Linked DNA regions of Homo sapiens: regions 1, 2, 3 and 5 are each linked to region 4. The links come from fine-mapping of genetic effects on gene expression. A gene starts in region 4. Each other region holds a variant in brackets. All regions are shown on one strand. Distances are from middle to middle.

Region 1 (5,106 bases), 48 kb before region 4:
CAGGGCCAGTGGGGTCCCCAGGCTACCTGCACTTCTACCTGGCTGACTATAAATTGAGGAGTTTCCATGACTGCTTCAGGTTCATTAACAGACTACGGTGACTCATAGAACTCAACAAAGCACTGTATTGATGATTCACATACAGTTTCCCATAAAGGATACGACTCAAGAACAGCCAAATGGAAGAGACGTGTAGGACGAGGTATGGGGCTAGTGGCTGGGCTGTGGAGCTTCCATTCCCTCTCTGGGCATGCCATCCTCCCAGCACATCATGAGCTTATCAACCCAGAAGCTCCTGGAAGCTTGTTGCTCAAGAGTTTTTATTGAGGTGTCATGACTTAGGCATGATCAGCTAAATCATTAGCCACTGGCTGGGCGCGGTGGCTCTTGCCTATAATCCCAGCAATTTGAGAGGCCAAGGCAGGCGGACCACTTGAGGTCAGGAGTTCGAGACCAGTGGGGCCAACATGGCAAAACCCCATCTCTACTAAAAATATGAAAATTAGCCAGGTGTGGTAGTGCATGCCTGTGGTCCCAGCTATTCTGGAGGCTGAGGCAGGAGAATCTCTTGAACCCGGGAGGCAGAGGTTGCAGTCTGCTGAGATTGCGCCATTGCACTCCAGCCTGGGTGACAGAGCAAGACTCCGTCTCAAACAAAAACAAAAACAAAAACAAAAATAAATAAATCATTAGCCACTAGTGATTGAACTCAATCTCCAGTTCCCCTCTTCTCTCCAGAGGTTGAGGGGTGGAGCCAAAAGTTCCAACCCTCTAATCATAAGCTTGGTCTTTGTAGTGTGGCCAGCCTCTCTCCTGAAACTATTTAAGGGCCCACCTTGATTCACCTCAATAGCATAAACTTAGTTATGATCAGAAAGGATTCATGTATAACAACAGACATTCGAACCACTCGGAAATTTCCAAGGGTCTTTGATGCTCAGTGCCAGGAGTCAGGGATAAAGACCAAACATATTTTTTATTATACCATAGTTCTGAAATGTGTTTTCTGGGTAAATCTCTTGATTGCAGTTTCCCTAAATGTATCCTGAAGTTAACATATTTAACCTCCTTGCCAACTGTGCCCCAGTTCTGTGTGCAAAAGATGTCCCTTCATACGTGTGCACCTAGCATGTTCCTTGATTCGTTCACGGGTAATAGTGGTATATGCTGCTTACCCAGAATGCTGCTGGTGTCAGTGACGGTACCTTGCCAGAATCCCAGAGACTCAGTGCTCTAGGCGAGTTCAACCAATCAGCACCAGAATAGGAGGTGACTGTTCTCAAACTAGTGGAGTTTGTCCAGTTCTTTTGGTAGCAAGAGACGCCTGACTCAATTTTGCTTAAAGGGGATTTATTGGAAAAAAAAAAAGTATATCTAGTCCTTTCCATGGACACGGAAGAATGGAAGAAAGCAGAGAAATAGAACACAGAGAGAGACAAAAACACTGCCAGGAAGTGTACTAGGAGCAGTAGCTGAAACTCACAGAAAACGTCCCATAGAGGATAAGCCCCAAGTTTCAGCCTTGGGCAGACCCGTGTAATAAGAGCTAACACAAATAGGGTCAGTACAATAACGGCTAACATTTACTGAAGGGTTATTATTCACTAAACACTATTTTAAGCACTTTATAAACATTAATTCTTTCATTTCTCACTACGACCCTATGAGATCTGGGCTGGCATGCCCCCGTTTAACAGAGCAAGGTCACTTATTTTGTGGCATGGCATCTGAGCCTGGGCTCTCAATCCTTACACCATACTCACTCTCTAAGGATGGCTACAAAACGACTCTGCAGCTACAGTCTGAAGTTTAAGCAATTATAGTCCAAATGACTGAAAATTCTCATAAGTGAGTGCATTCGCCTGAGAAAAGGAAGTGATCATTCAAACTCATAATCAAGGAAAATGTATAACTACATAGGACACTTACAAAGATCTAAACATACAAACTCAGAAAAACTAAAGAAGTGGTTCTAGGCAGGACCAAGAGGAAGGCGTTTCCCTTAGTCGTGCTTCTTTTTTTTTTTTT[G/TG]AGACAGGGTCTCAGCGCTGTCACCCAGCCTGGAGTGCAGTGGTACAGTCTCGGCTCACTGCAACATCTGCCTCCTGGGTTCAAGTGATCCTTCCACCTTAGCCTCCCAAGTAGCTGGAACTACAGGTGCATGCTACCATGCCCTGCTTATTTTTGTATTTTTAGTAGAGATGTGCTTTCACCATGTTGGCCAGGCTGTTCTCGAACTCCTGACCTCAAGGGATCTGCTTGCCTCAGCCTTCCAAAATGCTGAGATTACAGGCATGAGCCACCACGCCCAGCCCTTAGTCATGCTTCTTAAAAACACCTCCAATTTGAGCATGTTAGCAGTTTCAGCCCCCTCACCATGTGATGCTGTGAGCCACCTCAGGACTCCACAGAGTCCCCACCAGCAACAAGGCCCTCACCAGATGCAGTCCCTCAACCGTGGACTTCTCAGCCACCATACTGTAAGAAATAAACTCCTTTTCATATATATATATATTCATATATACATACATATATATATTCATATATACCTCCAATTCCCTATGGGAAAGTAATATAATTAATACCAGAACTAATATCTATCGTACCTACTTTAAATAATAATTTGTTACTTTCAGCTAATTCTTTCTGCTATCATTTTAAAGTCCAGAATAAAGAATCTACCTCCAAAGATCATTAAGTTCAGGATCAGAACCAGATGAACCAGCCCAGACAAAGAAATGAGCCCACTGAAAGAACAACGCCTTAACAAAGCTCATTTCCATCCAAAGGTGCTGCCCTGAGTCACTTTTGCACCTTATTATCTCTTTGGTCCCCACAGCAGAAGAGCAATAGGAATGATGCTGTTATTTTTATTGCATAAAGAAGGAAGAGGCCCGGAGTTGTGGTGGGATAGACCTAAGTTCCCACAGCTAACAAGTCCTGAAGCTGAGACCGGAATCCAGGCTTCTCCATTCCTTCCGTAACTCTGACTCATTTTAGGGACAATTTCCCAGATTTTATATTAATACGCATCAAAGCTCACTGGCTTGGCCTACACTCTGGTGACTTATCAGTCAGCAGTGAAACGTTCCCAATGAGGACTCAGACAGGAATAGACCTAGAAAATCTCTTTTTCTGTTCTAGCTTCAAGAACAGACCTAGAATTTTTTTTTTTTTTTTTGAGATGGAGTTTCACTCTTGTTGCCCAGGCTGGAGTGTAATGGCACCGTCTCAGCTCACTGCAACATCGACTTCCTAGGTTCAAGTGATTCTCCTGCCTCAACCTCCCAAGTAGCTGGAATTACAGGCATGTGCCACCACGCTCAGCTAATTTTGTATTTTTAGTAGAGATGGGGTTTCACCATGTTGGCCAGGGTGGTCTCGAACTCCTGACCTCAAGTGATCCACCAGCCCCTGCCTCCCAAAGTGCTAGAATTATAGGTGTGAGGCACTGCGCCCAGCCTTGACCTAGAAAATCTAATAGTAAGGCGAAAATAGCTATCTTTTTTTTTTTTTTTGACCACTTAGAATGTACCAGGCACTCTGTAAAGTGCTTTATATATATTCTACCTCACTTATCCTTAAAACATCACTGTGAGGGGTATAGTATTAGTTCTATCTTACAGACCAGGGAGCCGAAGGTTAAACAGGTTAATTTACCAAGGTAACAGTGGGTAATCCTGTATGATGGGGAGGACGTGTTCAGGTCTAGAACTCATCCTAGCCAAATGAATCAACAGAGGGAGGAACTCTGCAGGCTGCCCTTGGCATGGGCTGATGGTCATGCACTCAAATTGCCTTCTCTGGGCATTGCTGTCCACTGTCCCTCTCTCCTCACCTGCGGCCTCTGAATGACTAGGTTATCTCTCCGTTGATGTCTTCTCTTTGATGCAGAAATCCCATCCGGCCTTTGGGAGGGCTAGTATTCTTTTTTGCGGGGGTTGTGGGAGGCACAGGAGGATGCCTAGTATTCTGATACTTTTCAAAGGGCATGCTTCTGAGATGTCTCCTCCCTCAATGCAGAAGGATCAGCAAGTCAAAAGTTGTTTAACTCCTTTAAGTATTTCCTAAAGGAAGTATTTATTGGGACTCACTGTTAGGCACACAATTTAAGAAAAATAATATTTTCATGCTTTTTTTTTTAAAGTCAAAATTAATGCCAAAAAATCCACAAAATTCAAATAAAGACAAGATCCAAAGGTCTAGTTGCAGGACTCCCCGCACTCCCTTCACCCCAACCTCAGCAACCCTGTCAGATGCTATCCATATTTCAATACTTGACATTTTTTTTTCACCATTAATTTTTTTGCATTAATGTTGCTCTTTTTTTTTTTTTTTTTTTTTTTTTTTTTGGAGACGGAGTCTCACTCTGTCGCCCAGGCTGGAGTACAGTGGCGTGCTCTCGGCTCACTGCAAGCTCTGCCTCCTCAGTTCAAGCGATTCTCCTGCCTCAGTCTCCTGAGTAGCTGGGATTACAGGCTCCCGCCACCACGCCGGGCAAATTTTTGTATTTTTAGTAGAGACGGGGTTTCACCATGTTGGCCAAGCTTGAGAACTCCTGACCTCAGGTGATCCGCCCACCTCGACCTCCCAAAGTGCTGGAATTACAGGTGTAAGCCACTGCGCCCAGCTGCCCTTTGTAAAGATGGCATTCAAACATTATTTATGTGGACGGCTGCATTTACATCTCGCTCACCTCCACCTATCTTGATCCTGGACTGGGTGCATAAAGAACAGAATGCTGGCCGAGCGCGGTGGCTCACGCCTGTAATCCCAGCACTTTGGGAGGCTGAGGGGAGAGGATTTTTTGAGCCCAGGAGTTCAAGACCAGCCTGGGCAACATAGCAAGACCCCATCTCCACTAAAAATAAAAATAATAATAATTAGCCAGGGGCACGTACCTGTGGTCCCAGCTACTCAGGAAGCTGAGGTGGGAGGATCACCTGAGCTAGGGAGATTGAGGCTGCAGTCAACTATGATTGCACCACTGCACTCCAGCCTAGACAACGGAGCAAGATCCTGTCTCAAAACAAAGGACAGAATTATGACAATGGGCTTTGATTTCCACTGGACCTTTTCCCCATGTCCTTCCCTGCCTCCTTCACACAT
Region 2 (5,106 bases), 23 kb after region 4:
GTTCCAGACTAGTCTGGCCAATATGGCAAAACCACATCTCTACTAAAAATACAAAAGTTAGCCAGGCATGGTGGTGCGTGCCTGTAGTCTCAGCTACTCAGGAGGCTGAGGCAGAAGGATTGATTGAGCCTGGGAGGTGGAGGTTGCAGTTAGCGGAGATCGTGCCACTGCATTCCAGCCTGGGTGACAGAGTGAAACTGTCTTGAAAAATAAAGTAAAATAAAATAAGCCTTTTTCTGTAAAAAGTCAGCCCTGGAGGAATGGTTCCAAGCGTGTGGACAGCACCACTCAGTTTCCCTACTATACCTGTGGAAGGAAATGATAGTTGCTGTATTTCTAAATAGGTTGACTATTAACATTGCTGCATTCTCCTTCCCAAGAAACACCATGGCCTGATACACTCACTGCGGCCCCATGTGGGGCAAAATTGCTGCCATCCATATCTTTTTTTTTTTTTTTTTTGAGACAGTATCTCACTCTGTCACCCAGGCTGGAGTGCAGTGGTGCAATCACAGCTCACCGCAGCCTCAATTTCCTGGGCTCAAGCGATCCTCCTACCTCAGGCTCTGGAGTAGCTGGGCATGAGCCACCACATCTGGCTGGTTTTTGCTTTGTTCTATTTTTGTTTGTTTTGTAGAGACGGGGGTCTCTCTATGTTGCTCAGGCTGGTCTCGAACTCCTGGCCTTAAACAATCCACCTGCCTCGACCTCACTAAGTGCTGGGATTACAAGCGTGAGCTATTGTGCCCAGCCTTGCCACCCATATCTTTGCTTCCTGTGGCTGAGTTTCAAAGCATCATGAACCTGAAATAAGAGGTCACAAGTTCACTGCTCGGCTTAAGCTGAATGGCAGCTAATCCATTCCAAATAGATGAAAATCTCTTCTACTCTGAAAGTAAGCTAGAAAAGATATCCCACAATATCGAATTCATTAAAGCTCTCTGTGAAAGAAGGATAATGGGTGATCCTTTTGTTTTGGTTCCACTTGCTTATTTCAAACTACCCACATGTTGTGTTTTCTGTTCACAATAGTTAACAATGGCTAACATTTATTGAGCACTGTTCTAAGTGCTCTTCACATATAAAAGATGTAAAAATGAGGCTCCTTCTTTCCCAGTTTGGCTGAGGCATGAGGATAATAGATACTAAATACCAAAGTGAGTTTTCACACAGACCACCCCAGAGGGCTTATAAAGTAGGATTTAGTCAAAAACTAGTTACACAATTTTGGACTACTTCCACTAAGTCAAATACAGTCCTGGCCCGGACACAGTGGCTCACGCCTGTAATCCCAGCACTTCGGGAGGCTGAGGGAGGCAGATCACCTGAGGTCAGGAGTTCAAGACCAGCCTGGCCAACATGGTGAAACCCTTTCTCTACTAAAAATACAAAAATCAGTCAGGCGTAGCGCATGCCTGTAATCCCAGCTACTCAGGAGGATGAGGCAGGAGAATTGCTTGAACCTGGGCGGCGGAGGCTGCAGTGAGCCAAGATCATGCCACTGCACTCCAGCCTGAGCAAAGGAGCGAGACTCCATCTCAAACAAACAAAAACAAAAAAGAAATACAGTCCTGCAGTGAATAATGACTTTTCAGTCAATGACACACTGCACATACGTTGATGGTCCCAAGAGATTATAATATTGTAGCTTTAGTATACCTTTTTTAATATTCAGATATACTTAGATATACAAATACTAATAGTATGGAAATTGCTCACAGTTTTCAGTGCAATCGCATGCTGTGCACGTTCATAGCCTGAGAGCAATAGGCTGTCCCACATGGCCTAGGTGTGTTGTAGGCTAGATCATCTATGTTTGTGTGCGTGCCCTCTATGATGTTCGCACAATGATGAGATCATGTAACAATGCATTTCTCAGAAGTATCCCTGTCATTAAGTGATACATGGCTATATATTAAAAAGTTGAAACTGAGGGAAAAAAATTGAAGAAACTGTGTCTAGAAAGAGGTGCTGTATGGGTCCTTTATCACATGCAGCAATGGGGACTGGTAGGGATGCCTCCTCTTCATGTCAGGTCAAGAGAGACTTTACTAGGACCGAGTAGAGCTTGGTTTGTGTCCCCTGGGAGGTGGAAGCACAGTAGACTACAGTCTGACTTGCATCCAGAGAATCTAGAGGTCAAGAGAGAAGGGCAGTCTGGAAAAGACATTAACAGGGTGAAGGAGAGTTCCTTCTGCACTGAGGTCAGCTTGCACTCCCAAAGTATGTCAGGACAAAAAATTCAAGTGTGGACCATGAGGGAGAGGAGGATGGCTTGGAGCTTGTTTAAACTCTGGTCAAGGGACGCCTGGAAGAACAGGGGTCTTCAACAGAGATTCTGTGCACGGTGGATAGCTACACACACACATGCATGCACGCACGCACACGCACACACACACACACACACACACACACCCACACACACACACACACGGCTGAGAGAAAAGCAACCAGGAGCAAATACATTGCCCTCAACATGGGAAGCACAGTTGAAAGTCACGGTGAAATCTGAAGCACCAGGAAGAAAAGGTCACCTTTAACCATTTGCCAAACCCAGAAAGTGAGAACATAGCCTACAAGAGTGTCACTTAAGGTGAAGGTTTCTGGCCACACCCTAACCTTTTCTGTCCTAACCCAACCTAACCCACTTCAATTGATGAGAAACTATGGTTATCAAATTGGGACTGCAGGGGTAAGGTGACCGTCTAGAAGAGAATCATACCCCCTAAACCTGGCTCCGTAGCAAAAGACCCCAGCTAGGGGGAACTTTCCCTAAAACTGGAAGCTTTTATTATTACATGGGATGTGACATTCTAAATCTAGAAATGAGAGTGTGTTTTGCAACTTAATGTGGTTGTAGAACTTTTTATTACCTAAGGATGGTCAGAAGCATTAGAGAACCACCTGATTTCACATTTAGG[G/A]GCAGGAAAAGAGTTTCTCCTGCTGAAGAAATTTTAAATAAACAATGAGAAACAAAATAAAGGTGGTTTCTTATCATGGCCCATGAATATTGCTTATACAACCTTTTGGTCATGTATGAGTTATTGTATTTAATCCCCACAGAAACCCAGTGAGGTAGGTCCATTGTTATCTTCATTTCACAGATGAGGAAATAAAACACAGAGAACTTCAGCAACTTGCCTAAGGCCACACAGACAATAAATGGTAAAGCTGGGATTTGACTACAAGGCTTAAATGCATCATAATACAGTAAGAATATTTTAAAATATATTTCCTGTCTTTGTTCTAGGTTCCAGAGAATCTCCTCCCTACTCGATACTTGTTTTGTGATGCAAACGCCCCTATTTGCATGATCATAATAGTGTGAAATTAGGTGATTCTTTATTAACCTTAAAGCAACCAATCAACCATTAGCAGTGGATGCTCACAACAGCTCTGAGTGATACAGAGAACAGATACAATTATTATTATTCCCCTTATACAGAAAAGGGGGATTTCCCCTTTCAGGAAAACTGAACGCAGAGAGAGAATTAATTCAGGGGATGTTGACAAAGGTGTGGGGTATGCTAGAAGAGCAAAAGAGAGAAGAGGGGTGTTACCCAGAGGGTAGAAGCTGCAGCAGTCCCCGGGCTGGAGCTGCTGAATGTCTGGAGACGTCCCCACTGCTGGGGAGCGGAAGCCAATCCTGTGTCTCCGCTGGAGCCTCAGATGCTTCTCGGGCCCCCTGTTGTATACAGTCACTGGTACCGCTGCCGCTGGAGCCAGAAGTAGGATGGCTTCTCCCTGTCTCGCACCTGCTCATCTTCCCCTGGAGTTAGGGAACATAGGCAATGACACAAAGGAAGGCAGAGAAGGGTGGGAGTTTGGCAGAGAACCAGCAGACACTGTGGCTTGGAGGCAAATGGAGATTTGTTGATAACTAGAGTTAGGGGCAGTCAGGACTAGAAGCCAGGCGTGAAGTTCAGGAGGCCCCAAGGCCACTTTCACTTCAGATACTAACTGCAAGTTCAGGGATCCTCAAGACCACCCACAGATTTGACAATCTGTTGGAAGGACTCACAGAACTCACTGAAAGCTGTTATACTCACAGTTGTGGCTTATCACAGTGAAAGAATGCAAATTTAAATCAGCTGAGGGGGCGGGGCGTGGTGGCTCACACCTGTAATCCCAGCACTTTGGGAGGCCAAGGCAGGCAGATCACCTGAGGTCAGGAGTTCGAGACCAGCCTGGCCAAAATGGTGAAACTTCATCTCTACAAAAACACAAAAAAATTAGCCAGGTGTGCTGGTGGTGGCACATGCTTGTAATTCTAGCTACTTGGGAGGCTGAGGCAGGAGAATTGCTTGAACCTGGGAGGCAGAGGTTACAGTGAGCTGAGATTGCGCCACTGCACTCCAGCCTGGGCGACAAGAGTGAAACTCTGTCTCTAAATAAATAAATAAACTGAGGGAAGAGGCATATGGGGAAGAGTCCAGGAGAGCTCCACGTGCAAAGCTTCCAGTTGTTCTTTCCCAGTGGAGAACTAACTCAGCAGTGATGTGTGAGGATATGCATGAATTGCCACCCAGAGAAGCTCACCTGAGCCTCAATGTCCACAGTTTTTACTGGGGTTCTGTCACATCGACATGGTCAGTTTCCAGCCCTTCCGGAGGCTGAGCTGGAGCTGTGTGGCCCAAAGCCTGCATTATCGATTACATTGTTAGCATAGGTTATGGAGCTTGTTCCAAAGTCCTCAGGTAAACATTCTTATCAAGCAGGATATTCCAGTGGTTTAGAGATTATCTTCCAGGAGCTGAGGGCAAAGGCCAGACCCCTGTATGGGCAAAGTTAATCCTCTCCTGCATATGAGGTCTTCCCCCTCTCAACTTGGTGGTACTTTCAATGCTCTCAAGCTCCTTATTTGATCCTCAAAGCCGCATTATAGCATAGCCAAGGGATGCAAAAAGACAACTAAAAAAAATTCTATCAACTTTGCAGGGCATACAATATTAAGTAATTTCAAGTATAAAGTGTATTTTCAATTAGCATATGAGTTCACTTTTATATAATGTGTAGTAATATTTAAAATATATAGAAACATTTAGTTTTTTTCCCACTTAACAATTGATACATACTATTCATTTAAATCAGGTTGGGCACAGTGGC
Region 3 (5,106 bases), 190 kb before region 4:
ATAACTGAGAACTGACTCCTTCCTGAGTCTCCCAGGGATCCATGGGACCTATAACATAGGCACACCCATCATCAATGCACGTGTTTAGGTGGCTTTGACTACTTTGGAGTCATCCTGCAGGCTTTTATCTGCTGCCATTTTTCTAAAGCTTCCATCTGATTTACAAAGGCTCTTAAACTAGAATTTGGGAAGGAGTCACTTAGAGAAAACATTTGCTTTACTTTCTTCTTCTCAATTTGCTGAGGAAGCATTTCTTAAAACTCTATGGGGAGAAAAATTTGCTCCTCAAAAGCCAGCTGGAACTGAAGAAAACGTTGTCTAAGAAAGTATTGATTGTCAGCAGAAGAGAGAGTTATGTGAGGGCAAGTTTAGTTTTTTATGATACAATTGATTTATTATTTTATTTTTATTTAGAGACAGGGTCTCACTCTGTCACCTAGGCTGGAGTGCAGTAGTATGATCATAGCTCACTATAACCTCAAACTCCTGAGCTCAAGCAATCTTCCCACCTCAGCCTCCCAAGTAGCTGGGACTTCAGGCATGCACCACCATGCCTAGCTAATTTTTGGTTTTAGAGATGGGGTCTCACTACGTTGCCCAGGCCAGTCTCAAACTCTTGGCCTGAAGGGATCCTCCTACCTTGGCCTCCCAAAGTGCTGGGATTATAGGTGTGAGCCACCATGCCAAGATGCCAAGCCTAATATATATATATTTATTTTTATTTTTTTTTTTTAACAAAATCTCACTTCTTCGCCTAGGCTGGAGGGCAAAGGCACGATCTCAGCCCACTGCAACCTCTGCCTCTTGGGTTCAAGCACTTCTCCTGCCTCAGCCTCCCCAGTAGCTGTGATTACAGTCATGTACCACCATGCCTGGCTAAGTTTTGTGTCTTTGGTAGAGATGAGGTTTCACTCTGTTGGCCCGGCTGGTCTCGAACTCCTGACCTCAAGTGATCCACCCACCTCAGCTTCCCAAAGTGCTGGGATTACAGGCGTGAGCCACCGCGCCCAGCCCTTATGATATAATTTTAACCTCATTTTAGAAGTCGGGACTTAATGAGGACTGAAATCAGGACTTTGGGGCAGCTTGTATAATTACAGCTCCTATAATCCTTGTCAACATGATGGAACTACAAGACCCTCCTGATCTTTGAGTCTGTCACTATGAGCCACTTCCTGAAAGGAAGCTCCAGCTTCTACCTCCACTGGGAAGGCTCAAGTCATCTTTGGCCCCGAGGAGAAGCTAGGGATGCCAGTGTTCAGGCCCCCACAGCAGAGGCGGGCCTGTGTCAATATTGCAGGGAGAACCTGCTCTCTATCGCCAGACCTCCACAGTAAGGACAGGCACTCTCGGTGCTGATGAATTTGGAAATAGGAAAATTGGCACAATCTTAGAATGGGATCTTCATTTAATAAATGAGGACTTGGAACCCAGAGAGGTAAAGTGAATTCTACAAGATAAAATCATGGTAGAAAAATCGTGGCACAGCATATAGATTCTAAGCAGAGAGAAACTAAAGGTCATGTTTTAGGGTGCAACAAAGACATGTTAAGTCCTTCTGTCCAGTGCAATCTATGTTTCAGGAAACCCCCAGCCTGAAAGTTGTTCTCTGCAGGAGGGGTTATGGAGAAAAGACCACAGATTGCCCCTTTTGCTACTGCAGTACCCACAGACAGGAGACAAAAGGAGACGCCCGTGTAAAAGGAAATGCGGCTGGCATATTGCAGCAAGAACAGAAAGAAGTTCTAGCCATTGTACACATCTGAAAAGAACCCAGTGAGGGAGAGCAGCCCCTGGAATAACTGAAATAGAAATTAATGAAACCAGGACATTAAAATCTAAGCTTGATGTGACTGTGCTCAGATCTAGAGACGTTTCTGCACTTAGTAGAAAAACTCCAATATGTCGATAAAAGCATCCAGACTCTACCCTGCAGGGAACAGAGGAGAGGCGCGGCAGTGAGACACAGCCATGGCAACAGAGAGGAAGGTCCTGACCGGACATCTCAGAGATATCGCCTTCAGCCATTGCCAGCTAAGGCTTCATCAGGGATTCCCAACACCTGGAGCTATCACCTGCACAACAGTGAACCCCAGCGAACTGTGGGGGGGGCACCAGTTATAGAAACCGTATTGGCTGAGGGGTTTAGCAAACTGTACAAACTGTACAGTAACACATCCCACACCAAGGCTTCTGTCTCTGCAAATGAATCCCTTTAGAGAGTCCCACATTCCTGAAGAGTTGTTGGAGGTAGGCGTTAAATTTGCCAAGCTACCAATATAAATTTTATCAGCTCACAAGACTGGGGCCGCATAGAGGTCCCCATGGAGTCACACACTATGCAGAGACCTACCTGGAGACAGGCTGTTCCAGCCTGGGTGTGCAGCACATGACACACACTGCTCCACGGCTCTAAGAGTCAGGGAAACTGGGAAGGCAGATGTTTATATCCAGAAAAAGCATGAATTGTGGAGTTAGGCAGAACTGGGTCAGAATCCTGGGCCCTACCACTGA[T/C]TGACCCTGGCTAAGTAAATTAAGTTGGTGTCTTAGTCACTTAGGCTGCCATAACAAAACACCAGGTATTAATACTAGCTTGAACAACAGGAATTTATTTCTCACAGTTCTGGAGGCTAGAAGTCCAAGATCAAGGTACCAGCAGGGTGTCTAGTGAGGACTCTCTCCTTGGGTTTGCAGATGGCTGCCTTCTTGGTGTGTGCTCACTTGGCCTTTTCTCAGTGTGTAAAGGTGGAAAGAGAAAGAAGAAGCTAGCTCTCTGGTGTCTCTTCTTTGGGCACTCATCTGATCATATCCATCCAGCCCTCATGCCTCATCTAAACTTCATTACTTCCCAAAAGCCCCATCTGCAAATACCATCACATTGGAGGGAGGATAGGGTTTCAACATATTAATGAGGGGAAGACACAATTCAGTCCATAGCAGTTGGCCTGTGAGTCAAGTGACTTTCTCCTTCCCAATCTGTGAAATAAAGACAGCACTGTTAAAAGAATTAAATAACCTACTCTACTGAAAAAGGCAGAAAGCTGTTAGCATAGTGCCTGGTTACATGGTAGGTACTCATATTCATTTTCTGACAGCTATCTAGACCATAAACCTGTGGACACTTCCCCCGATTTTTAAAATATTGCGATAAAATCTGCATAACATAAAATGTACCACGTTAGGCATTTTTAAGTGTACAATTTGGCAGTGTTAAATGTATTCACGATGTTGTACAACCAATCTCTAGAATTCTTCTCATCTTGCAAAATTGAAATTCTTACCCATGAACAACTTACCCATGAAAGAACTCCTCATTTCTCCCTTCCCTAAAATTTTTAATTAAAAGGAACAAATTAAAAAAATCAAGAACTTTAATTGCTACTCTAACTAGCTGCTAAGAATCTTCTTTATTTATTTATTTTTTTGAGACGGAGTCTCTCTCTGTCGCCCAGGCTGGAGGGCAGTGGCGAGATCTCGGCTTACTGCAAGCTCCACCTCCCAGGTTCACGCCTTCTCCTGCCTCAGCCTCCGGAGCACCTCGGACTACAGGCGCCTGCCACCACACCCGGCTAATTTTTTTGTATTTTTAGTAGAGACGGGGTTTCACTGTGTTAGCCAGGATGGTCTCGATCTCCTGACCTCATGATCCACCCGCCTCGGCCTCCGAAAGTGCTGGGATATAGGTGTGAGCCACCAAGCCCGGCAGAATCAGATTTTTCTAACAAACTAAATTCCAGATTTTTTAAAAAAGTAGATATCGTCCCGTCTCCACTAAAAAATACAGAAAAATTAGCCGGGCGTGGTGGCGGGAGCCTCTGGTCCCAGCTACTTTGGAGGCTGAGGCAGGAGAATGGCGTGAACCCAGGAGGTGGAGCTTGCAGTGAGCCGAGACTGCGCCACTGCACTCCAGCCTGGGCGACAGAGTGAGACTCCGTCTCAAAAAAATAAATAAATAAATAATATTTTTAAAAAGTAGATATTGTAGTTGCTTCACAATGAGAAATTCAAACTAAATTCCAGATTTTTTTTTTAAAGTAGATATCTTAACCGTTCCACAATGAGAAGTTCATGCAGGAACAAGCAATGAATTAAAACTGTCAATACAGAATGATTGATTTGGTAAAACTCTATCTTTAAAAGATTATGAGGGTTCAAAATTACCATATTATATTCAAACTCTGTCAAATGGAAGCCTACAGAGTCATTACAAAGGTTGTTTGCACGTCCAGCAAATACTTAGCAGGTCTATGTGAATGAGGCAGGAAAGAGAACAGGAAAGTTGTAAGGCAGGGTTTTCCAGACTTTCCTGATAATGATCACCCGAGATACTTGTTAAAACTACAAATTCCTGGGCCCCATCCCAGACCCACTGAATCAAAATCTCCAGATTGGATTTCAGATGTAATGTTCTAAAACAACAGTCTTCTAGAGGGTAAGAAATCTGTATCCAAGAAAAAGAGCTGCCCAATAATGCTGATGACGATATAAAGCAAGTACTTGAGGATGGTAGCTCCAATCTGTCAGGTTCTGAAAGGTGAACTTAAAGGTTTGTTCCAAGCACAGAGGCACATTTAGCCACAAATGAGGCACACTGCTAGGGGACACTGCTAGGGACACTTGGAACAAAATCAGGGATAGGGCACTATGGGATGTGGTAGACAGGAACTAAGAGCACAAGTCATGAACTAAGGGCACAAGAAATGAACTAAGAACACAGGGGGAGGTGGAAAGGCTTACACACGGCCATGTGTTCCTTTCAAAACATGATATGACTTGGAATCAGTTTATAATATCTTTGTATTTGTTTTTTGACAGTGATAATATCAGCAATTTAAGAAGTCAAGATGGAAACTGAAAACAAAAGCTAAGTAGCATGTCTTAGAGACCTGCCTGTGTTACCTGGGGCCTCTGGTGCAGGGAGCAGCCCCTATCGCAAGCAACTAGGCGGATAAAAAAAAGGAAGATCTCCAGGGTCCAGGGGATGCAGTGGGGACAGAGCATGGAGATGGAGAGAGAAACCAGGTCACAAGAGGAAGTTAGCTTTGGGTCTGAGTTGGGAGACCCAGATGTTTTGTGCCAGATGAAGCCTCCAGCCTTGTGTCCCCT
Region 4 (5,091 bases):
AAGTAACTGCTTGTCAAATAAAACTTTTTCTGTATAGAGAACATTTTGAAAACATGTTCTGGAAATGCTATTATTCTGCTGCCAAAAATCTAGGTACTACCTTTTAAAAAAAGAAAAGGAAAACCTCTGCATCTGCACACTGAAAAAAAACTTAGAATTTTTCTTGATTGACGTTCTTCCAAAAGGAGAGTTCTGATGAAATCTGAACCTACTTATTAAAAATATAAATATGCAATAGCTTCTACTAGTTTACAAAGACAACTAGCATTAGAGATAATGGAAATTTACCACCTGAATTCAACAAAAAACTTTGGCCCAGATTGAAAAACACTGTATCATGGCCAGGCGCAGTGGCTCATTGCCTGTAATCCCAGCACTTTGGGAGGCCGAGGTGGGCGGATCACCTGAGGTCAGGAGTTCCAGACCAGCATGGCCAACATGGTGAAACCCCATCTCTACTAAAAATACAAAAACTAGCCAAGCGTGGTGGTGGGTTCCTGTAATCCCAGCTACTAGGGAGGCTGAGGCACGAGAATCACTTGAATCCGGGAGGCGGGAGGTTGCAGTAAGCTGAGACCATGCCATTGCACTCCAGACTGGGCAACAAGAACGAAACTCCGTCTCCAAAAAAAAAAAAAAAAAAGTATCATTACTATTATTTTTTGAGACAGGGTCTCACTCTGTCACCCAGGTTGGAGTGCAGTGGCACGATCACAGCTCACTGCAGCCTCCACCCATGGGCTCAGGTGATCCTCCCCACTGAGCCTCCCCAGTAGCTGGGACTACGGGAGAGGGCAACTACGACCGGCTTTTTGTAAAAAAAAAAAAAAAAAAAAAAAAAAGTATCACTATAAAGAGCATGCAACAGTAAGTTTTTAACAATTACTACCGTCACTAAAGCCAATTTGGAACAGAGACCTAGGCCTTAAGTAGCTGTAAAAGTGTCAAGACTTTCAAATATAAAGAAGCATATTCAAACACACTTCTTTTACTAAAAATAAACTTCGAAATTTATTTTAAAACCCACTTACAGGATGAGATTGACAACGTATCTCAGGCTGAAGAGGGAGGCAGGTGGAAGAGTGGTTCTTTACAAGAGAAGGGATGTGCAAGTACTCTTTGAAATAACAACCTTAGAAGGAGAAAGATAATTGCAAGGATCCAAAGGAAGTGCACACAGGGCAAAAGGAACATACAGAGATCCTTAACGAGACCTTCTTTCCAATGTCAAAGAACACAAGGCAGCGAGGGGCACTGGGAACAAAAGGGAAAAAACTGTGTGAGATGCAATTACCAAGGGAGGCAGGCACCCGACCCCGCAGAGCAGCAAATGGAAGTGACTCAGGAGGGGAATAAGCCAAATTCATGTTATTGAAAAGCTCATTCTAGCTGCCAGATGGAAACTGACTGTGGACGGAAGGAGCAAGAGTTAGGAGGCCTCTTGCAAATACGCACTTTATGAAGCTTTACGAAGTGTTCAACATGTTTATTATTAGGAAAAGATCAATTTTAGTATTCAATCACTTACAATCCGCAGCGCTAGTCAACAATTAACATTCGTTAAATAAGTTTTAAGACTGTTCTACAACTTTGCCACTGTAACTAAGTTCAACCGATGAGATGTCAAAATGATTCATTCAATCTTATACTATGGTTATATGAGACACCAGTTAATGAGCAAAAGCAGCTAAGACGAAGCTCCACTTAACAGGTACAGAGACAGGGATGCTGGTGAGTGCTTTTTAAATTTTTTCTTTTTTTAAAAACAGGCATGAAGTGACATACCTAGCGTATATGGTGAGATTTTAAAAACATAAAGCCTTGCAAACTACCCATAACGGCTACATGGAGTGACAACAGCAACCGTGAACACAGAATTAAGTTTAAAGCAAAACTCCCTCTTAGAACCTGTTAACCCACTGTAGACAGAACTGGTCTTGACGATTTCCTCCCTCCCAGAGAGTGATTCGGCCCTGAGGGGGCTCCAAGACACCCACCCGAGGATAAAGCCAGGGAGCTGGGCACCGAGGAAGAGGCTGGGGTCCAAGGGCGCACAGCTGCACCTTCTGCGGGACACCTGAGAAGAAAGGGGTGCCGAGGGCGCTTTGGGGACGGGGCAGCTGGCGCCAACAGCCAGGCGCGGGTCGACTCCTCACCTCGGGACTGGGACGCGGCGGCTCCTCCCCGCCCTCCGGCCGCGGCGACTCCAGCAGCGCGAGAGCCACGGCCTCGCCGGCAGGCTCTTTACTCTGTGGATCCTCCATGCCGGCTGTCACGCCAGAGGAGAGTTGCTGGAGCCGGACACTTGCTAACTCTCACTCTGCAGAGCCCGAAAGCCTCGCCTTTCTCCGTTGAAAAATTACCGGGCTCGCGTTCCCGCGGCGGCGGCCACACAAACTCCAGCGGCCACCTCCCACTTCCGGGAGCGTGTGGCGTCCACACGCCGGGCAGGCGCAGTGAGCCGGCGTGCGCGGAACGCCAGCGCCGCAGTCCACAGGGGGAGGGAGGACGAACAAGAGGGAGGCGCGCCGGTGAGAAGACGGGGCGTGGCCGGCCGTAGGCGGAGCTAGCGCGGGTTGAAGTTGCGCAAGGATCTAGTCCAGTCACTGGAGGGTAGCACCGGCACGTGTGTTCCCGTCAGTGTTTCCTGAGAAGGAAAAAAGTAGGGTGAGTGGGAAGATATCATAGAGAAAGATGTTTTCGACCATAAAAAATAATAAAACAATTCACATTTTCCATAAGGAGTTTCCTAAAACTTCCACTCTGGGCAAGAAAAGAAAATGGGTCGGGACTTAGTGTCCCACTATAAACAATTAGAAAACGGAACAAAATATAGGAGACACCTATTCAGACATTGGACAACGGACAGCTGTGGACTGTTTTACCTGAGAGAAAAGAAATAAAAGGAGCCGTATATCATCCTGCCCTTTTGCCCAGAGGCGATTTCCAGTCTGTGGTGCGATGAAAGGAAATCATATGGAAACCTAGGATCTCCTGGGTTGAAAAGACAGAGATTGGAGTTGACGAAATTGGGGTAGGCCAAGTCGGTTGGAATTTGTAGGGCAGAATTCTGGAGAGGAGGGAATTACATGGAAAAAGAGCTTCAGAAATCTGCTTAGGAGTACCTTGAATCTTTAACTGAATAAAAAACGTGAAACTCCACAAGGCCAGGAAAGAACAATTACTGGGGAGCAGTACACCAAACAATGGTGAGAGGTCACACAGAACTGGGAATCATTTGAGCTCCCAGCAACCAGAGTGAAGAGATTATTGAATACCATGGAACACGCAATAGAAACCTCAGATGTGAAACTGCCATTGCAAAATTATCATTGAGACAGTGAAAGAGATCAGACCTAACCAACTCCATCTTGCTTTTAACCTCCAGGCTATCCTTATTCATTCCTAGGCGTAGGCCAAACTAACACTGGGAGGAACTTAGTGTATAGCTTATAGTTTAAAACAAAGGTGATAGCCCTTTCTCAAAATAAACCCTCTTCTTGAGACTAGACTGCTTTTGTAGGACTAGTAAATTAGCCGAAAGATTAGAAATTATGATTTAGGACTCATGCAGCTGAAGGCTACAAGATTCTAACCCTCTCCAAATTGCTCCTGGGGATAATATCACTATTGTAAAATCTAAGATCAGTGCTTGAGATATTTTGCAGGCCCTGCACTTGATGGATCAGCTGGCACCTCCCAGATTGATAAACTGACTCACCTGATCTTGGATAAACTAGCTCATCTGATTTTGTGTCCCCCACGGGAGGAACTGACTCAGTGCAAGAGGACAGCATCGACTCCCTATGATTTCATCTCCTACCCAACCAGTCACCACTCCCATCTCACTGGCTTCTCACCCACCCAATTATCCTTAAAAACTCTGATCCCCAAATGCTCAGGGAGACTGATTTGATTAATAAAACTCAGGTCTCCTGCACTGCCAGCTCTGCATGAATTGCTCTTTATTGCAATTCCCCTGTCTTGATAAATCGACTCTGTCTAGGCAGTAGGCAAGATGAACCTTTTGGGTGGTTACGAAAGTGTCATGCCTTAGTGAGATATAATAACCGTAGACTGCAGGACCCAGAACATAAACTACTGTAGATTCTTCAAAAGCCTTAAAACAAGCCCTGAAAGGATCAAACTGCTCTGTAAGTAACCTAATTACCTGTAAGAACAAATTCTAAAACTCTCTGAAAGACTACAGTAAAATCCAGGATTCAACAACATTAAATTCAAAATGTGAGACATCCAGTCAAAAATTGAAAGACACGCAGCACTTGGGGATGCTGAGGCGGGAGGATTGCTTGAGCCCAGGAGTTTGAGGCTGCAGTGACCTATGATTGCACCACCACAACCCAGCCTGGGTGACAGGGTAAGACTCTGTCTCAAAAGAGAGAGAGAGAGACCAAGTGGTAAGAAAATATCTCACGAAGTTCATAGAAACAAACCCCAAAATGATAAAAATGATGGAATTAACAGACAAGGATTTTAAACACCTGTTATGAATATGCTCAAAGATTTAAAGGAAGACATGATAGGAGAGAAACTGGAAAGATTTTTGAAAAATCAAATTTCTGGATGGAGGTGAAAAATATTTGAAATAAAAATTTCTTTGGATGGGATTGCTAGCGCATTAAGCAATGCAGAGAAAAAGGTAAATAAATTCAAAGATATAGCAACAGAAACAATACAAAATGACACACACACACACAGAAAAAAGATGAATACAGCTTCAGTAACCACTTAAAGAGGCTTAATACTTCAGGACCACTTGAAGAGGCTTAATACTATTGACCTAAAAGGTAGAAGCTGAGGCAAAATTAATATAACTAGAGAGTTTATTTGGTCCAAGTTTGAGGATTGCAACCCAGGAGCATAGAATTGAAGTTGTGCTGAATCCATCTACTCAGAAGATATGCCAGTTTGGAAGTTAAGTGAACACTTAGTAACCAATCATAATTGTCTTAAGTCTTGCCCATTCTAGATTATTTGCTTTGTTAAATAGGCAATTGAGATAGGGCATAATTCCAATAACAATAATCTTTGATGGGGTTAAGTAGCCCTTTCTAACCATACATACCTCCA
Region 5 (5,094 bases), 31 kb after region 4:
TGAAGAAGGGGAAAATGGATGTGGGGTGACAACAAGCAGCCTGCCATGCTCCATGGTAGTCAGAGACAACATGGTGGGCTGTTGTGCTCAGCTGGTGCTAACTCAATAGAGTGACCGTGTCATCAGCCTTTTTATCTGATCCCCCAATTGCTCCATATGGTTAGTTGGTACATACTCAAAGGCTCTCAGGTGAGAGACATTTGTCAAGATCACCTCTAAAACTAGAGAGTGAAAGAGTTGCCATGATACCCTCTTAAAATCCCAGGTATCCACATACTTCTGAGAAATGTTGCCCTCAACCAAACAGAAAGGCACGAGACCCTGGAGACAATATGTCCTAGCACTGACCCCTAGGGGACACACCACGTTCTTCTCTCCACCTGTTCTGCAGCCCAGCTCTCCCCTCACTGCACCGTTTAGGGGCAGGAACGCGGATCTGTAGGGGTCAGAGGCCAGGGCATTTGTTTCCACTGTCACGGGGGTGAGGTCTCTGTGTTTGTGATTCAGACATTTGGGGGATTTGCTTTCTCTTCCATAACGCTGGCCCAAAACTGCATCTGTTTGGGGGTTGCTGCATCCCAGGAAGCAGGGTGGTGGAGAAACCACGGATAGGTGGGTGGTGGCGAAACCACGGATAGGTGGTTGGTGGCAGATGGGGGAGTACTGGCAAGTTCCCAAGTGCAGAGGTAGCGATGCCTGCATCAGCAACCACTATCTCGTGCCAGCATCAGCCATGGTGAGCATTGTGGTCTTGTGTCCAATGCCCACTGCACTGGTGTCCTCACTGACTGACTTCTGCTCCTGCCTGCCACCAAAGCTTTGACTTTAAGCCTGCTTCTCCCATCTGCTCAGCACGAGCCGGAGCTCCTGAATAGCCTTCTGCTAAATTTCTTCCTTCCAAAGTTATTGGAGTTGGATTCTGTTGCTCACAAATAAGATTCCTGACAGATAACAGTTTGAGGGGATTAGAGACACTCCAATCTAGCTCTCAGGAGGAAGCGTATTCCTTCTTTTTCCTTGGATTTGTCTTATTACATTGAGCTGTTCACGAGGCTGTGGCTTGCGCTGGGCTTAGAGGAAAGGGAGTCTAAGACGCCGTTCATCCCACTTTTACTGGTGCAGCTCCTTGAGCCTATCTCTATCCAGGCGAAATGAATCCTTCACATCATTTACCCCAGCTCACAACTCTCTGGAGGCTTAGAGCGAAAGCCTAATCATAGCAATGACAGCCAGCTTTGTCTGCTCTCATTCTCCCTCGCACCACCCCCCTCCCCACGTTTGGAAAGGATTTAAGTGATTAGGAGCCTGGCTCTCCCAGACGCTTCTTTCCATCTGAGCTCCACAGATCACTTTATCACCTTTCACCAAACTGGTAGACTGTGCGTTATACAAGAAGACAATCTGAGTCCATTTTGTGGAGCGCTTGGGGCCAGAAAGTGCTGGCTACACAAGTCTGGAATTAGTATTTATAGAGCATAAATCAACAGAAATTATAGACATGGAATATTCTGAGAGAAAATAAATAAAAGCTAGTATGGGCTTTTGTGGAGGAGGATTAACAAGACGCGGTTCAAGGCTGGGAATGCCAGAAAAAGACTGGGGACAGATCCAGTTATGAACATGGAAATCCATGAAACTGCCTCCCCCAATCTATGTTCAAAGGAAAAGCTCTCAGCAAATATAAAATGATTTTTAAAAAATTTTTTGCTTTGAATTTCAGAATTTGCACTTATTTATGGAGGCAAATATGTTGTATATAAACTTCTAATCCAATGTTTTTATTCTCTAAAATGACAATGAGGATGATGACGAAACACCAGTCATTTACTGGGCACTTTGTTTGTTTGTTTTTGAGAAGGAGTATTGCTCTGTCGCCCAGGCCGGAGTGCAGTGGCATAATCTTGGCTCACTGCAACCTCTACCTCCCGAGTTCAAGCAATTCTCCTGCCTCAGTCTCCCAAGTAGCTGGGACTACAGGTGTGCACAGCCACGCATGGCTAATTTTTGTATTTTTAGTAGAGATGGGATTTCACCATGTTGGCAAGGACGATCTTGATCTCCTGACCTTGTGATCCACCCGCCTTGGCCTCCCAAAGTACTGAGATTACAGGCATGAGCCATAGTGCCCAGCCTAATTTTTGTATTTTTAGTAGAGGCGGGGTTTTGCCATGTTGGTCAGGCCGGTCTTGAACTCTTGACCTTGGTGATCCGCCCACCTCGGCCTCCCAAAATGCTGGGATTACAGGCATGAACCACCGTGCCCAGCCAACTGTTTTTTTTTTTTTTTTGGGGGGGATGCAGTCTCTCTCTGTCTCCCAGGCTGGAATGCAGTGGCACGATCATGGCTCACTGCAGCCTCAACCTCCTGGGCTCAAACGAACCTACTGCCTCAGCTTCCCAAAGCGCTGGGACCACATGCATGAGCCACTATGCCTTGGGCCTGTCTGTTGGGCACTGTCAAGCACCATGCTAAGTGATTTACACATACTAGCTCATTTAATCTTCACACCTGTATATGGCTGGTGCTATAGTTTCCCTCCTTTTAAAGATGACACTGAGTCTTAGATAAGATAGCCAGCTCAACATCATATAACTAGTTAATATCTCAGGACTTAGCCTCCTTTTTTCCCAGCACTTATATGTATTTAATTACTTTCTGGAAGCGCCCAGTGGGAAAATGTTCACTCTTCTTTTGTTTCCAGCTGCCAGATTGGTATTCTCCACCCCAAATGCACATTAGAATCACCTTATCAGCCTTTAAAAATT[T/A]TTGATGCCAGGGTCATGCACTCGGTCAATTAAGTCAGAATACCATGCGTGTATTTCACTGTAGAGCAAGTTAAGCTAACTACTGGATTAGGATGGAAAAAGAAAATGAAACGGCCATTGCATTGAAACTACAATGGTAAATTCCTGGTTAGGAGAGTGGGGATTAGAGCCACTAGGGGATAAGGACTACAGAATCTGCTTTTAGCTCCAATAAGCAAGAGGTTAAGTGGAGGAAGCAATGCATTAAACAAACGCGGAGTCGCTTCTCTTTTTCATAATGTGTCTCACAAGCACTGAATTTGAAGGGAGAAAACAATGAAAATTTAGGGGTAATTCTCAAAAATAATCTCCCTGGGGACAGATAGTACACAAAAGCAAGGACATAAGACTAATAAAACCATTGCTAACATTTATCAAGAAAAAAAGAACACCATAGGAATGGGCCCTGGCATTCATATTTTATAAAGTCTTCCCGAGAGATTCTGTCGTGCAGCCAAGGTTGAGAATGATTGCCTCATCTCCTTCCTCGCAATCCAGTTTTCCTACCCTGCACATCTCCACTTTGCTATTTGGTATATGGCATACAGCATCTGCCTATGAGTTATGGGATTGCCAGACAAGCAAACGGCATGCAGCCCTGCAGAAGGGATACTGTCCTCAAGCTAGCTTGCAACGGTTTCTACAGGCGGGCAGCTGTTCGAAGTTGAAGAGATGGGATACTGGATCCCATCCCACCCATTTCATTCAGCTCATCCCTGGACATGTATTTCCTGCAGTGTTATTCCCCGTGGCTGAGCTTCTAAGAGCTCCTGCACCTGCACTTGGGGCCAGCTCAGTTATAAAATGCCTAGAAAACTTTTGGAGACTTTGCTCTTTTTCTCTGTGAATAAACTCATCATTTCAATGCCAAGCTTCTCATTGGGATTAGTTTACCAGCTTTAGACTTTTTTGTTTCTTTTTTCTTTTTTTTTTTTAGACGGAGTTTCATTCTTGTCACCCAGGCTGGAGTGAAATGGTGTGATCTCAGCTCACTGCAACCTCCACCTCTCGGGTTCAAGCAATTCTCAGACTTCCAAGTAGTTGGGATTACAGGCACCTGTCACCATGACAGGCTAATTTTTGTATTTTTAGTAGAGACGCGTTTTCACCATGTTGGCCAGGCTGGTCTTGAACTCCTGACCTCAGGTGATCCAACTACTTTGGCCTCCCACAATGCTGGGATTACAGGTGTGAGCCACTATGCCTGGCTCGGCTTTTGACTTTTAAGTGAGTCTGGTTTTTCAGCAACTTCACCTTCCTTCTTGGACTCAAATCTCAAGTCAGTGAATAAAATTCATAATGTTCCTGTTGGAGAAAGAGTTATATCTTTTTCTTTTTCTTTTTTTTTGCTAGGCAGGGTCTTGCTTTGTCACCCAGGCTTGAGTGCAGTGGCGTGATCATGGCTCAAAGCAGCCTCGCTCTTTAGCTCAATCAGTCTTCCTGAGGTAGAACAATAGGCCCTGGAAGGAAAACCCTAACTTTCCACACCTAAGTGACAAGGACCAGAGGCTACTCCCTTTGCAAACCCGTCTTTTCTGCTCGGGCAGATGGGAAATTGAAAGTACCTCTGATTGCAACCAATCAGACGTTTGCATAGGAGTGTAACTTTGAAACTTTACTTTAGCCTCTGACTGTTAGCTTTCCAAGACCAATCTCTGATTGCCAGCCAAGTCTTGGTTTGCATAGAAGAGCAACTTTGTAACTTCGCTTTACCCTCTGATTGTTAGCTTTGCGAGACCAATCAGATGTGTGCATAGGAGTGTGACCTTTGTAACTTCACTTCAGCCTCTGATCGGTTACTGTCCGTAACCAATCACACTGATTGTGAGCCACCGCTCCATTTACATGAGGTGAACACCAAGTGGCCAATGGGAAACCTCTAGGGGGTATTTGAACCCAAGAAGATTCTGCATCTGGGCCCTTGAGCTGCTGCTCCAACTGCTCCCACACTGCGAAGTGTACTTTTACTTTCAATAAATCTCTGCTTTCTTTGTTTCATTCTTTCCTTGCTTTGCTGTGCATTTTGTCCAATTCTTTGTTCAAAAATGCCATTAACCTGGACAACTTGCAGGCAAGACCCTCTATGAATAAGTACAGCTCAGCCTCCTGGGAGTACAGTCACATGCCCTATGCCCAGCTAATTTACAAAATTTTTGGTAGAGACTGGGTGTTGTTATGTTGCTCAGGCTGCTCTTGAACTCCTGGGCTCAATCAAGCAATCCTCCCATCTCAGCATACCAAAGTGTTGAGATTACAAGCATGAGCCACCACACCCAACCAAGTTCCATC

Alleles and levels. Alleles are on the strand shown, and positions count from the first base shown. SD is a standard deviation of normalised expression in the study named. Not every link is listed here.
For the expression in monocytes after triphosphate RNA of the gene that starts at base 2,431 in region 4, TG is the high allele of the variant in region 1 and G is the other (large effect, 1.0 SD a copy in Kim-Hellmuth 2017).

The links.
Region 1: its variant is fine-mapped to the expression of ERI1 in monocytes after triphosphate RNA (Kim-Hellmuth 2017, PIP 0.95).
Region 2: its variant is fine-mapped to the expression of ERI1 in blood mononuclear cells (TOPMed, PIP 0.91).
Region 3: its variant is fine-mapped to the expression of ERI1 in hypothalamus (GTEx, PIP 0.98).
Region 5: its variant is fine-mapped to the expression of ERI1 in whole blood (TOPMed, PIP above 0.99).

Annotation. Positions count from the first base shown.
Region 1 is chr8:9,048,580-9,053,685 of GRCh38, reverse strand. It overlaps a transcript of ERI1 not described here. Among named protein-coding and RNA genes, the nearest start is that of MIR4660, 2.7 kb to the right of the region's middle. The variant G/TG (reference allele first, on the strand shown) is at 2,029.
Region 2 is chr8:8,977,660-8,982,765 of GRCh38, reverse strand. It overlaps LOC124901866, which reads right to left. Exons shown (of 4, transcript XM_047422504.1): 3 at 3,561-3,769. Among named protein-coding and RNA genes, the nearest start is that of ERI1, 23 kb to the left of the region's middle. RefSeq lists an enhancer at 4,573-4,867. The variant G/A (reference allele first, on the strand shown) is at 2,922.
Region 3 is chr8:9,191,280-9,196,385 of GRCh38, reverse strand. All of the region lies in intron 2 of LOC101929128 (a long non-coding RNA gene), which reads right to left. Among named protein-coding and RNA genes, the nearest start is that of PPP1R3B-DT, 42 kb to the right of the region's middle. The variant T/C (reference allele first, on the strand shown) is at 2,515.
Region 4 is chr8:9,000,237-9,005,327 of GRCh38, reverse strand. It overlaps ERI1 (exoribonuclease 1), which reads right to left and starts at 2,431. Exons shown (of 7, transcript NM_153332.4): 1 at 2,157-2,431. The coding sequence starts at 2,264. It overlaps LOC105379227 (a long non-coding RNA gene), which reads left to right and starts at 2,586. Exons shown (of 3, transcript XR_002956680.2): 1 at 2,586-2,667.
Region 5 is chr8:8,969,537-8,974,630 of GRCh38, reverse strand. The region is part of intron 2 of LOC124901866; the gene reads right to left. Among named protein-coding and RNA genes, the nearest start is that of ERI1, 31 kb to the left of the region's middle. The variant T/A (reference allele first, on the strand shown) is at 2,767.